Homo sapiens: one gene and its partners. The protein of the gene in region 2 interacts with the protein of the main gene of each other region in a pairwise test. Each region holds a gene or a part of one and is shown on either strand. Other genes may lie near its edges.

Evidence for each region.
Region 1: the proteins of FAM118B (region 2) and SEMA5B interact in a two-hybrid assay, tested with the Homo sapiens proteins (one large-scale study listed by BioGRID and IntAct).
Region 3: the proteins of FAM118B (region 2) and ZNF235 interact in a two-hybrid assay, tested with the Homo sapiens proteins (one large-scale study listed by BioGRID and IntAct).
Region 4: the proteins of FAM118B (region 2) and CTSB interact in a two-hybrid assay, tested with the Homo sapiens proteins (one large-scale study listed by BioGRID and IntAct).

The regions. Positions count from the first base shown.
Region 1 is NC_000003.12:122,919,764-122,923,263, reverse strand, and holds part of SEMA5B (semaphorin-5B), read left to right. Parts: intron 1-816; coding exon 817-1,024; intron 1,025-1,141; coding exon 1,142-1,349; intron 1,350-3,500. UniProt on the Homo sapiens protein: May act as a positive axonal guidance cue.
Region 2 is NC_000011.10:126,253,282-126,256,781, reverse strand, and holds part of FAM118B (protein FAM118B), read right to left. Parts: intron 2,524-3,500; coding exon of another isoform or gene 2,478-2,523; coding exon 2,349-2,477; intron 1,632-2,348; exon of another isoform or gene 216-1,631; coding exon 1-215. UniProt on the Homo sapiens protein: May play a role in Cajal bodies formation.
Region 3 is NC_000019.10:44,291,526-44,295,025, reverse strand, and holds part of ZNF235 (zinc finger protein 235), read left to right. Parts: intron 1-3,500. UniProt on the Homo sapiens protein: May be involved in transcriptional regulation.
Region 4 is NC_000008.11:11,851,088-11,854,587, reverse strand, and holds part of CTSB (cathepsin B isoform 1 preproprotein), read left to right. Parts: intron 1-1,108; 5' UTR 1,109-1,133; coding exon 1,134-1,259; intron 1,260-1,892; coding exon 1,893-1,978; intron 1,979-3,500. UniProt on the Homo sapiens protein: Thiol protease which is believed to participate in intracellular degradation and turnover of proteins. Cleaves matrix extracellular phosphoglycoprotein MEPE. Involved in the solubilization of cross-linked TG/thyroglobulin in the thyroid follicle lumen.

The sequences.
Region 1 (3,500 bases), on a different chromosome or scaffold from region 2:
GCAGTGTGTTCAACATGGGTACTAATTCCTGGAAGTGGTCAGTGCTAGGAGTGGTCAGGGTGTGGTCAGGGCCCAGCCGTGGGTAGTGTGAGTATCCCCCATCCCCATGGAGAAAGGGAAAGAACCAGGGGGCAGAGGAGGCTGCTGATGGTTGACTTTCGTGTTCGCCCAGCTTCCCACCCAGGGGGTGGGATGGAGCTGGGAAAGACCTCAAGCTTTGCAGTCCTACCATCTAGCCTATCTCTGTGTGACCTTGGACAAAAAAGTCATCCAACCTCCTTCAGTCTCCTTTTCCTTATCTGGAACTAGGGATAATACTGTAAGAGATAATACCTCACAGATATGTGAGAAGGTTCATATGCCTGGAATGTAGGAGATGCTCAGAAGGCTTCCAGCTTTGGTTTAGAAATCATAAGAACTTTGAGCTGGCAAGGACACAGGAGAGGGACAGCAGGCTTGGCCCAAGGTAGGAGAGGGGAGCCTGCAGCAACAGCATAAAAATCACCGGACACTCGTCCACACTCAAAGTATCCGTTTTTAGATAGTCCAGTCCCCTTTGCTCTCCTCCCTCCTCTTCCCCAACCCTGGCAGGATCCTCCTTCCCCATCTCCCCAGTCTCCTGTTCTTAGTTCCCAAAGAAGAGGCATCCCACCCTGGAAAGGGTGCAGGACGCCCAGCAGGGATGCTAGGGGTGGGGGGTGCTGGAGAATCAGCGTCCGCTGCTGTGGCCACCTGGGTTGCCAGGAGGAGGGAGCCGGCGGGGGATGGCGGCAGCCCTGGTGGCCGGGGCGCGCGTGACCTGGCTCCCCGCGGCAGTGTGGCACCCTGCCTGAGACCGGTCCCAACGAGAACCTGACGGAGCGCAGCCTGCAGGACGCGCAGCGCCTCTTCCTGATGAGCGAGGCCGTGCAGCCGGTGACACCCGAGCCCTGTGTCACCCAGGACAGCGTGCGCTTCTCACACCTCGTGGTGGACCTGGTGCAGGCTAAAGACACGCTCTACCATGTACTCTACATTGGCACCGGTGAGCCGGCCCGGTCCAACCTGGACTGCAGGTCGGGGGTGGGTTGAGGGACGGCGCGGGGCTGCAAGCTTCCGGGGCCTTCAAGGCCACCTTGGTCTGGCTCCCCCTCTCCTCCAGAGTCGGGCACCATCCTGAAGGCGCTGTCCACGGCGAGCCGCAGCCTCCACGGCTGCTACCTGGAGGAGCTGCACGTGCTGCCCCCCGGGCGCCGCGAGCCCCTGCGCAGCCTGCGCATCCTGCACAGCGCCCGCGCGCTCTTCGTGGGGCTGAGAGACGGCGTCCTGCGGGTCCCACTGGAGAGGTGCGCCGCCTACCGCAGCCAGGGGTAAGCCGGGACGGGGCGGCTCCCGAGGCCTCCACTGCGGAGGAGGCGCTTAAGAGGCGGGGCTTTGGACCCGGGAGACCTGGGGTCGGTCCCTGCAGTCTCCACTAGTGTGCCTTAGGACAAGTCACTCCACCTCGCTGAACCTTGGTTCTCTCCTCGTAAAACATCTTGCAGGGTTTTTGTGAGGGTTAATTGAGATAATCTCCATAAAGCACTTATCAGTACCTGGAGGAAGTGTGTGCTTAGCAAATTTTGGTGGGTGGCTGTTGTTATCCCTGTTGTCAAACACATAGCTAGGGCCAGTCAACCATCTCTAGCCCACTTGATTTATTCTCAGTCCTTTCTGTACAGAGAGTTCTTTATCTTTGAAGCCACAGCACTTATTGCCCAGATGTGGGGACAGATGGAGATGATGCTTTGAGTCAGCCCCACGTTTTTGCTCCTCTTGCTTCCTTCCTTAGAAGAGGTAGAGAGGGCTGCTGCAGGTAGGGCAGAGGTGAGGCGCCACGTGGAGGAGTTGCCCTGGCTTCCCACTGCTTCTGAACTTGGTTCTTCATGCCGTAGCTTCAAGCGGACTCACAGATTTGACAACTGTGGCATCAGTGTTTAAGGGGGAAACCAAAGCCTATTCCAAAGCCAAATGGAAATGTAGCCCAGACTCCTACCACCCGAGGCTCTCCCAGGCTGCATGGCCTCATTTTCATGATACTCAGAAGCTGGCACCACCACAGCCATGCGAGCTTCTGTGGCCTTTGCAACCGAGAGTCCTGGCTGTGCCATCTGTCCTCAAGATTGGGAAGACAAATGGTATCCATGATACAGGGCTGTTCTTCAGCTCCAGTGGGGTGTGCTCGGAGCTGGGCAGAGGCCTGTGGGGCCAAGAGGAGCTGGATGGTCTTGGTGAGGCAGCCAAGGAGGGGGAGTCTCAGGGCAGACACTCCAGCTCCCTTCAGCCCCAACACAAGTCTCCATCAGCGAGACACCACACACTTACTAAGACATACCATGTTCAGGACACTTTGTAAGACTGTTGGTGTGAGAGAAGGCAAGAGAAATAGGCCCCGAACACTGATTTCCCTCAGATCTCCAGATATCTGGGTGGGAAGAGAACCTTGGCCTATATCAGACATGTGGGGAGAGATGGTCGGGTGTGGGGGGAAGGACTCACATGGTGGAACCAGACACACCTGGGGCTCCATCTCAACTCCATCATCTACTAACCGTATGATCTTGAACAACTAAATCTTTTTGAGCTTCGGCTCTCTCATCTGGAAAACGGGGAGACATTTGATGGAGCAAATGATGTTTAACAGGCAGAGTTGTAAGGATTGGGACTAGTATTCATAAAGTGCCCAGTCTAGCAAATCACAAGAGGTAGCTGGTATCTTTATTACTTCTTATCTCCCCAAATGCATTTAGGAGCCCTCCAGCCTCCTAGGCCCTCTGGAGTCTCATTGAATATAGTCAGTACAGCTTGGCAATGAATCACAGGCTTTCACATATGGCTTGTTCTCCAAGAGGTTGTAAATCCTTAAAGGCAAACCCAGTGTCTCAGTATTTTTTATACTCCACCAGGGAGTCCCACCCAGCCCAAGGCACCAAGTGGCCTTCCACACATGACTGATCCTTCAGTTGACTGACTCTTTGGCGTGAGAGGAGTTTGGCGCAGGAGAAACATGGGGAATGGGACTGGAAACTGGATTGAGGCCAACTGAGAAGGCCAAAGGAGGACTTCGACTTGAATCCTGTGGCTGTGGGCACTGGAGTGGTCCTAGAGCAGTGGAGTGCAGTCACGGGCTGTGTGAAAAGATCAATCAGACAGTGGTGAACAGCACTGTCATGTATCAGGTGGATGGTCCAGGTGGCCTAGTATGGCTCTAAGCCAGATCTGAAGGAACGGGGCCTGCAGTGGACGGGAGGAAGGAAAGGGGCTGGGATGTTCAGCTCCAGTGGGGTGTGCTAGGGAGGCCTGCGCTCACATTCTGCAGAGAGGGGCTGGGGAGCTTGTGTAGTGTGCCCATTGCACTCTTGCCCTGGAGCAAGGCACAAAGAGGTCAGTTTGGAGTTTGGTGCTTTCATCCTATTTTGTTTCCTGACTTTGGGATAGGAGCCCTTGATGTGTACAGTGAAAACCCTGCTAAAAAACTATAG
Region 2 (3,500 bases):
CCATAGGAGATGACTTTAATCCCCTTGTCCAGCATGTTTTCTCGAAGCTTTTTGAACTCATCTACGTCTCCTCTCCGAACCAGCATGAAATGTTCTAGGTCAGATTTATGCTTGACAGCCTCCAAGAAAAGGGCCTGGAAAGTGGTGTCATCCACAGTCCAGCCACAGCCCAGGAAAAGAAATGACTTGTTTTCGTAGAGTTTCTGAATTTCTCTCTGGAAGGAAAAGATACAACATATTGACATTGTGAAGACACACTCAAGGCAAGTCTGAAACAAGAAGGTCATGCTACGTTGAGCAGACTGTGATGACCAATTAAGCAAGACTTAAGTGGGTTGGTATGTCCCATCAAGGAGTGTGATCTCTTGCTTATTGCTGTAACTTGATGATTGGTCTAAAATTTTATCTTTACCTGCCATTCTTCTGTAGGCTCTCTAATCAGCGTTTCATAGAGCTGGTGTCAGTGTACTGGTGCAGTAGTTTACTTCTTTATTTTTTATGCTTTATATATTTTTTGAGACGGAGTCTCACTCTTTCACCTGGGCTAGAGTGTAGTGGTGTGACCTCGGCTTACTGCAACCTCCACCACCCTGGTTCAAGTGACTCTCATGCCTCAGCCTCCCGAGTATATTACAAGTGTGCACCACCACACCCAGCTAATTTTTGAATGTTTAGTAGAGACGGGGTTTTGCCATGTTGGCCAGGCTGGTCTGGTACTCCCGACCTCGAGTGATCCACCCACCTTGGCCTCCCAAAGTGCTGGGATTACAGGCGTGAGCCACTGCACTTGGCCAGTAGTTTACTTTTTTATTTTTATTTTATTTTTGAGACAGAGTCTTGCTCTGCCACCTAGGCTGGAGTGCAGTGGCATGGTCTTGGCTCACTGCAACCTCCTCTGCCTCCCAGGTTCAAGCGATTCTCCTGCCTCAGACTCCCAAGTAGCTGGCATTACAGGCACCTGCCAGCACGCCCAGCTAATTTTCCTATTTTTAGTAGAGACAGGGTTTCACCATGTTGGCCAGGCTGGTCTGGAACTCCTGACCTCATGTGATCTGCCTGCCTCAGCCTCCCAAAGTGTTGGGATTACAGGCGTACTTTTTTAGATTTATGTGCCCAGAGGTCATTGTGCAAAGAGTAGGTCTTCATATATCTTAATCCTTCCATTTCTGGACCATATTTGCCTTTGTCTCACAAACTGAACTGTGAATCACCAGAGAAGATAATTCCATCATCGGATTTGCTCAAGGAAAGGCGTTTGATACTTAGAACATCAGTATGTGTGTGTGTGTGTATACATATACACACACAAAAACACAGAAATGACTGCCTAAGGGATCACTCAATGTCAGAGATGGATGCAGTTATGGCAGATGTTGGGAAAGAATGGGTAAAAAGAAAAAAAAGTCCCTTGTGCTTTAGACAATACATTTTCTCGGTCTTTTGCCTCATTATTAAAAGATGCTATAATCTATATGACCCAGTCCTGAAAACAGCAAACAAGATTCTTAGAGCTGGGGGCAGCGAATACTTCTGGTTTGAACATGTTTATCTGAACAAGTCGAAAATGTGCATCCCAAAAGATCAATAAGCTTTTCACAAAGAGTAAGTGTGAATAAATGTGGTTAATTCAATATAAGCCCATTGCCATTTATACAAAGTCTCTTTAGAATGTATTCTCTAGTAGTGGTTGGTTTGTTAAGAAGCTGCCTCAATTATTTCTGACACAGAGAGGGCTATTAATAAACCAAATGATGATAAAGGGTACTAATGTATCCTTTGTATGTGAAGATGATGCCAATGATGACATGCCATCTGCTGGTTGTCAATTAAGTACAAACAAAGATCATAGGGTTTGACACCTTAAGAGAAATTCTACATTTCCTAGACAGCATGCACACCCATAAGTTAAGAAGCACAGGAAGAACGTCTGACTTTCCAGTTTCTTTCTTTTTTTAGAGATAGGGCCTTGCTCTGTCACCCAAGCTGGAGTGCAGTGGCTCTAGACACAGCTCACTACAGCCTTATATTCCTAGTCTCAACTAATCTTCCTGCCTCAGCCTCCCAAGTAGCTGGGACAGCATGCACCATGATGCCTAGCTAATTTTATTTTTGTAAAGACAAGAGTCTCGCTATGTTGCCCAGGCTGGTCTCGAACTCCTGGCCTCAGGTGATCCTCTCCCCTTGGCCTCCCAAAGTGTTGGGATTATAGGCATGAGCCACTGCTCCTAGCCCCTGACCTTCCGTTTTCACTTAATGAAAAGAAGATGTTCCCCTTTAAGATCTATGGCATATTTAGAGAGATTTCCCAGGAAGGAGTTCCTGAGACCAGCAAGATCAGCCCCACTCACCATGACTTCAGTGTTCCTGAGCACGTTCTGATATCCAGCCGGATGAAGGACAATGCCACTAGGGTTGGTGTAGACTCCGTGAATATGCAACACGCTCAGCTTACGCTTCTCCTGAGCCCACTCGAGGACCTGCACAACACACATATAGCCCAACCAGCTTGGCAGGGCTGAGCACCTGTTTAAAGGTCACAATGGGCAAGAGGCTGTTTTGAGGACTAGACTTCTGACATAAACTCTCTAGCTTCATGATATAGGACAAGAATGCAAAACCTGATGTGGTCTAAGTTTCCACTTCAGGAATGACTGTCAAGAATGATGGCAACAAATTTGGTGATTTCTCTTTGAAAGTAAGCATCAAAAATCACAATTTGTCATAATTTGCAGAAACAACAGGGACCCTTTGCACTGGTGGCATGCATGAGAGCTATGGACAACTGCTTCAGTGATCGCCCCAAGAAATCAAGCCTCTGTATCCAGGCCCTTGTGTGGCCCCTCTTCGGAGTGACTCCAGGCTAACCACATGGCTTGCTTTTAGCCAATGGGATACTAGCAAACACACACAAGCAGAAGCTTGAAAAGTGTTGGCACAAGAAGTCTTACTTCTCTTGTGTTACTTTTGGAATCCAGCTGCCATGCGAAGAAAGTGAAGAAGCCTGGGCTAGCCTGCTGGGACATATATGGCCTGGCCAATTGCTTGCAGGGAAGTATGGTCCCCTTATATCACTCAGCCCTGGTGCGGCCATCAGATGTCTGCAGGTATGTGAAGAGGGTGCAAAAATCAGCAGAAAAAATGCCTGGCTGAGTCACTGAGCCCAGTTCAAATTGTTAATATACTTTATCATGGGCAGATAAGATATTTGTTGTTACAAGCCACAAAGTTTCACGGCCATTACTTGTACAGCAATAGATAAGTGATAGAAAAATCACTTCAGTCACCTCTGAGGAACCTAAAAGGCTGCCAGCGAAGAACAATCATTTAGACAACAGCGAATGCAATAGCCACCTGATTCCATGGCTCCATTTTCCCAAGGACTGGAGACAGCATACATTTATTCTTATCACATTTTGGAGAAATAGGCTATGAATCAGGAAAGTAGTCAAGAGGCACCGAGATTTAGAATTTGAATGTTACTAGGCCCCATTCTGACTACC
Region 3 (3,500 bases), on a different chromosome or scaffold from region 2:
TATTCCAGTTCTTAGGGGGAATGCTTTCAGCTTTTCCCCATTCAGTATGTTACCTATGGGTTGTCATATATGGCTTTTATTATTTTGAAATATGTTTCTTCTGTGCCTAGTTTGTCAAAGGTTTTTATCATGAGAGGATGCTGAATTTTGTCAAATGGTTTTTATATATCTGTTGAGATGATCATGTGGTTTTTGTTTTTAATTCTGTTTATAGGCTGAATCACATTTATTGGTTTGTGTATGTTGAACCATTCTCGCATCCTTGGAATAAAACCCACTCGATCATGGTGGCTTATCTTTTTGATGTGCTATTAGATTTGGTTTGGGGGGTTTTGTGGGGGGATTTGTGTTTGTTTTTGGAGGATTTTTGCATCTACATTCATCAGGGATATTGCTCTGTAGTTTTCTTTTTTTGTTGTGTCTTTATCTGACTTTGGTATCAGAGCAAGAGTGGCTTTCTAGAATGAGTTAGGGAGGATTCTCTCCTCTTAGATTTTTTGAAAGAGTTTTAGTAGAATTGGTACCAGTTCTTTGTACCTTTTGTGGAATTCCAGTGTACCTTTGTCTGGTCCTGGGCTTTTTTGTTCTTGGGAGGTTTTGCATTGCTGATTCAATCTCACTGCTCATTACTGGTCTGTTTAGGATTTCTGTTTCCTCCTGGCTCAATCTTGGGAGCCAGATGGGCTCAATCTTGGGAGGTTGTATGTTTCCAGGAATTCATTTTCTCTAGAATTTCTAGTTTTCAAGTGTATTGTTCATAAGAGTGTCTGATCATGTTTTTTATTTCTATGGTATTAGTTGTAATGTCTCATTCATTTCTGATTATGTTTATTTGGATCTTCTCTTTTCTTGGCTAGTCTTACTGGCAGTCTATCAATTTTATCTTTTCAGAGATAAAAACGAGCTTTTCGTTTCATTGATCCTTTGTATGGTTCCATGGTTCTCTATTTTATTTAGTTCTGCTGTGGTCTTTGTTATATCTTTCTTCTGCTGACTTTGGGTTTGGATTTTTCCTGTTTTTCTAGTTCCTGGAGGTGAGACACAGGTTGTTAATTTTTTATCTTTTTTTTTTTTTAGTGTAGACATTTAACACTATAAACTTCCCTCTTAGCACTGCTTTTGCTTTATCCCAGAGGTTTTGGTATATTGTATTTTCGTTTTCATTCATTTCAAGAAATTTTAAAATTTGTCTTGTCATTAACCCAAAGATTGTTTAGGATCATGTTTAATTTTCATGTATTTGTATAGTTTCTAGAGTTCTTCTTGGAATTGATTTCTAGTTTTATTCTGCTGAGGTGTGAGAAGATACTTGGTGTGATTTTGGTTTTTAAAAATGTATTGAGACTTTTTTTGTGACCTAACATATGTTCTATCTTGGAGAATGCTCCATGCACTAATCAGAAGAGTGTATATTCTGATGTTGGATAGAATGTTCTGTAAATGTCTGTTAGCTCCATTTGACCTAAAATTTAATTTAAGTCCAGTGTTTCTTTGTTGATTTTCTGTCTCAGTCTATCTAGTGGTGTCTGTGGGGTGTTGAGGTCCCCCACTGTTATTGTATTGCTGTGTATTTTTTTAGGTCTAATAATATTTGTTTTATGAATTTGGGTGCCCTGATGTTTGGTGTGTATATACTTAGGATTGTTATCTTATTTGTTTATTGATCACTTTATCATTATGTAATGACTTTGTCTTTTTTTACTGCTGTTGATTTAAAGTCTTTTTTTATCTGATATAAAAATAGCTACTCCTGCTCGTTTCTGGTTTCCATTTGCATGGAATATCTTTTTCTACCGCTTTACCTTCAGTCTGTGTCTTTATCGGTAAGATGAGTTATGTTGCCATTTGACTTATCTTCTTTCTTTGTGTAATTATTTTATAAGGCCTGCAAGTTTTATACTTTTGTGTCTTTTATCATGGCAAGTATCAACCTTTTGTTTTCATGGTTAGAACTCACTTGAGCATTCCCTGTAGACCTGGTCTAGTGGTGACAAACTCCCTAAGTATTTGTTTATTTGGGGAAGGCTTATTTTTCCTTCATTTATAGAGCTTATTCTAGTAGGATACAAATTTTTTTGTTTTTTGAAGCAACTTGAAAATAGAATCCAATCTCTTCTGGCTTGTAAGGTTTCTACAAGTTGAATTGTGTGATGGAGCTTCCTTTATAGGTGACTAAACACTTTTCTCTTGCTGATTTTAGGATTTTATCCTTCATATAAACCTTAGTCTGATGACTGTATGCTGTGGTGAGTTCCATCTTGCAATGTATTTTCGTGGAGTTCATTAGATCTCTTTTATCTGGATATCTAAAGCTCTTGCTAGATTAAGGAAGTTTTCCTCAATTATTTCCTTAACTAGGTTTCCAAACTTTTTACTTTTTCTTCTCCCTCAGGAATACCTATGATTCATAGGTTTGGTTGCTTTATGTAGTTTCATACTTCTTAGAAGCTTTGTTTTTTCTTCCTTATTCTTTTTTCTTTACTTTCGTCTGACTAGATTAATTCAAAAGACCTGTCTTGAAGTACCGAGATGCTTTCTTCTGCTTGTCTAGTCTATTGTAAAAGCTTTCAACTGTATTTTGTAATTTCTTCAATGATTTTTTCATTTCCAGAAGTTTTTATTTGTTTGGCTTTTTAAAAAAAAGATACCTATCTCTTTCTCTTTGGTAAATTTCTCATTCATATCCTGAATTGATTTTTTGTATTGCTTTTCAAATTTCTTTTGTATCTCATTGAGCTTCCTTAAAATCAGTATTTCAAATTATTTATCTGGCTCATTTTTTCCTTTATGATCTTTATTTCTTTTATGTTGTTTTTTTCCTGTCTTACTGCACTGACTAGAACTTCAGTAATGTTGAATAAAGGTTGTGAGAGTGGATATACTTGCCTTGTTCCTGATTTTCTGAGGGAAGCATTTAGGTCTAATTTTAGAATACTAAATCAGCCTTGCATTCTTGAGATAATCACTACTTTGTCTTGATTTATCCTTTTTATACATTGTTAGATTTGATTTGATCACATTTTGTTAAGAATTTTATAAATATGTTCATTAGGAATGTTAGTCTGTAGTTGCCTTTTCTTGGAATGTCATTGTCTTATTTTGGTGTTAGAATAATGCTGGCTTCCTAAAATGTGTTGAGAAGTATTTACACCTTTTCATTTTTCTGGAAGAGTTTGTCTAGCATTGGTATTGTTTCTTCCTTATATGTTTGGTAAAATTCATGGATGAAGCCCTATAAGCCTGAACTTTTGTTTGTGGAAATATTTGTAAGTATGAATTCTGTTTCTTTGGTAGATAAGGGCTATTCAGATTATCTGTATGTTCTCAAGTAAACTTATTTTGTGTCTTTCAAGAAATTTGTCCAGTTCATCTGCATTGTTGCATTTATTGCCATAAAGTTCATAAGTCCCTTATCCTTTTAATAATATATACAGGATCTATAGTGATGTCACCTCTCATCCTGATATTTGTAATTTGTATCTTCTTTCTGTTTTTATCAT
Region 4 (3,500 bases), on a different chromosome or scaffold from region 2:
GAGGTGGAGGCTGCAGTGAGCCAAGATTGTGCCACTGTACCCCAGACTGGGTGACATGGCCCACAGACCAAGACCCTGTCTCAAAAAAAAAAAAAAAGCTTTTTTCCAGAGCCATCTTGCTGTCCTCATATATTTATTCTCCTAGATGAATTGTTGCTTAAGCAACAATGAAGTTTAAATTGTTCTTCAGATAGAACCCCTAGGTGCCAGGCAGTTTGTTAAGCACTGACACCGCAGTCCTGTGACTTTCATGACGACCTGTGACCTGTGGGAGGTAGAACACCTCACCCACCCGTGGGAGCCCCTGGAGTGACTGACAGGAACCCCTGCCTCACCCAGCTCCCCGCGCCGCGGCTCTCCCCAGCCCTGGATGCAGGCGCCCAGGAGACATGTATTGCTTTTGTTGAGCTGCTCACTTAGGAGGGTGACTCAGAGTTCAAGCTGGAAAGCACTGGCTTGTGACTCATGAGCCAGTGCAAGATCAAACGGCTGGGGCATCGAGGTGAGAGTTTTCCTTCTCAGAAGCCTCATCTCCGCAGCCGGAAGCAGAGCCCTTGGCTGACTGGAAAAACCAGAGAGGCCCCGGGAGTGGGTGGATGGCCAGCCCAGCCCCACCTCTCAGCCTCAACCTCCACCAGCCCACACCGAGCTTGTTTGTCTGTGTCCTGTCGAAACTAGGACTCCTGGATTGTAACTTTTCTTACATTTCCCTGTCCCCTGGGTCCTCCACTTAGGGTGTAATCACACAGACAGGCTCTTAACTGTTTCATATCACTCACTTGGGAAAGTGTCTCAAGCTGTTCTACAAATCCATGCAAAGGCCGTTTAAAAATAGCAGCGAAGGCCCTGGACTCGGTCTCGTCCAGCACAGCCCCTTGGCTCTCTCTCTGGGCTCTGGCCGCCTGGCCCCCGGGGACCCACACGAGGTCATGGCGTGCTTCGGGCAGGGGGGCGGGGATCCCATAGACACCTCAGCTCCTTAAGAGTTCTCCGCCTGGGCCAGGACGAGCATGGGGGTCCCCACTGATGCCCGAGACGGTGCCCCTGTGTGTGTGAGCCCTCGACCCACATAACAGAGAGGTGTCCTGATGCCCTCTGTCCTCTCCAGGTGGATCTAGGATCCGGCTTCCAACATGTGGCAGCTCTGGGCCTCCCTCTGCTGCCTGCTGGTGTTGGCCAATGCCCGGAGCAGGCCCTCTTTCCATCCCCTGTCGGATGAGCTGGTCAACTATGTCAACAAACGGAATACCACGTGGCAGGTAGGCTGTGGGGCTGCGTCCTATGTATGTCCCCTCCCAGGTCGGTCTGTGCACACTGACTCCAGGAATGGGAAGCCAGCCCTCACTGTGGCCCACAGAACATTGTCCTGGACTGTTGAAAAATGGCCCTGACCCTGAGTCATGTCGGCTCTGGACCACGCCTCCCTCCTTTGTCCCATACCCCACGTGTGTGCATGAGTGTGTGTGCATGTGTATGAATATATGGTTGTGTGCACGTGGAGGTGTGTGGGGGAGTAAGTGAGCTTCGGAAGTGTTCAAAACCAGCTAGCCCCTGTGACGCCCGCCGTGGCACAGTGGCAGTTTATCAGTCCCGCCCCTGATTCCCTTTGTCTCTGCCCAGCCCTGACCCTCGGACTGAGAACCAAGAATGAGGAGTGAGCCATGTTGAGGGCTGGAGAGGGTCTCTGATTGTCAGCAAATGGGAGCAGATCAGGGGAGACACCCACTCTGCCCGTGTGTCACTCTGGGCTGTTCCCCAGTGCCCCCCAACCCTTGGGCCCTTGAATTGGGTAGGGTCTCTGGTTTTCCCTGGGTTGGGCTTCGTGTGTGGGCAGCGTGCCCATCCACCGCCATCCCGGGAGACCCTTCAGTCAGTGGGTGACTCTCTTCCAGGCCGGGCACAACTTCTACAACGTGGACATGAGCTACTTGAAGAGGCTATGTGGTACCTTCCTGGGTGGGCCCAAGCCACCCCAGAGGTGAGTGCCTGCTCCTCTGCACCGCTGTAATGTGAGTGGCAGGCGTTGGTTTGGGGCAGTGGGAAGTGGGAGAGTGAAGGCCTCTCTGGCGTCCGCAGGGCTCATGCTGCCCAGGGCTGCCGACACCGCTTGAGGTACAGTACTTGTTTCTTTTCATTTTTATATTACTTTCTCTTTTTATTTTATTTTTTCCTTCTCAAGTTATTAGTAGAGAAGATGCTGGTGCTTTTTTTTGGTTTTTGAGAGAGTCTCACTCTGTCACCCAGGCTGGAGTGCAGTGGCACGATCTTGGCTCACTGCAAACTCTGTCTCCCGGGTTCAAGCGATTCTCATGCCACAGCCTCCTGAGTAGCTGGGGCCACAGGCTTGCACCACCGTGCACGGCTAATATTTGTATTTTTAGTAGAGACTGGGTTTCGCCATACTGGCCAGGCTCGTCTCGAACTCTTGGCCTCAGCAAGTCATCTGCCCAACTCGGCATCCCAGAGTGCTGGGATTACCGGCATGAGCCACCCCCAGTGTTTTCTATTGTGCTTCTCCAAGGTGTCTCAGCCGCAGATGTGACAGACAAGGTCTGGGTCCCCACTATGTGGGCAGACTCAATCTTGAGTAATTTAAGGGAAATCTAAGAAAAGCCAGATGAGGCCAAGTATGGTGGCTCACGCCTGTAATCCCAGCACTTTGGGATGCCAAGGCAAGCGGATCACCTGAGGTCAGGAGTTCGAGACCAGTCTGACCAACATGATGAAACCCCGTCTCTACTAAAAATAAAAAACTTTGCCAGGCGTGGTGGCGGGCGCCTGTAATCCCAGCTACTCGGGAGGCTGAGGCTAGAGAATCGCATGAACCCGGGAGGCAGAGGTTGCGGTGAGCTGAGATGATGCCACTTCCCACGTGAGGATGGGGTAGTTAAGTTGCACGACACTGCCTTCTGCACAATGGGGATGATATGAGAAATGATGAGAGGATCCTGGGCAGAGGTTGAGGCAGGAGAGCAGGGCAAGAAACACTATCTGGACTGAATAAACTTATTTAAAAATGAGTTTATAATTTGTGGATAAATTCATCTTAAAAAATCCATTACATAAGCCTAGAAAGAAGCGTACAATATCGCAAGTCAGGCCAGGTGTGGTGGATCATGCCTGTAATCCCAGCACTTTGGGAGGCCAAGGCAGGCAGATCATTTGAAGCCAGGAGTTTAAGACCAGCCTGGCCAACATGGTGAAACCCTGTCTTTACTAAAAATACAAAAATTAGCCGGGTGTGGTGGTGCATGCCTGTAATCCCAGCTACTCAGGAGGCTGAGGCACGAGAATCGATTGAACTCAGGAGGCAGAGGTTGCAGTGGGCAGAGATCTCGCCACTGCACTCCAGCCTGGATGACACAGTGAAATTCTGTCCACTCCCACCCTCCCGTCCCACCCAAAAAAAAAATCAAAAGGTGCATTGAGCAACAGAATTTCCTTTTGTTTTATGAAATTACCAAGGACACCTGTCTGCAGCCTTCTTCGGCATGTCTTGT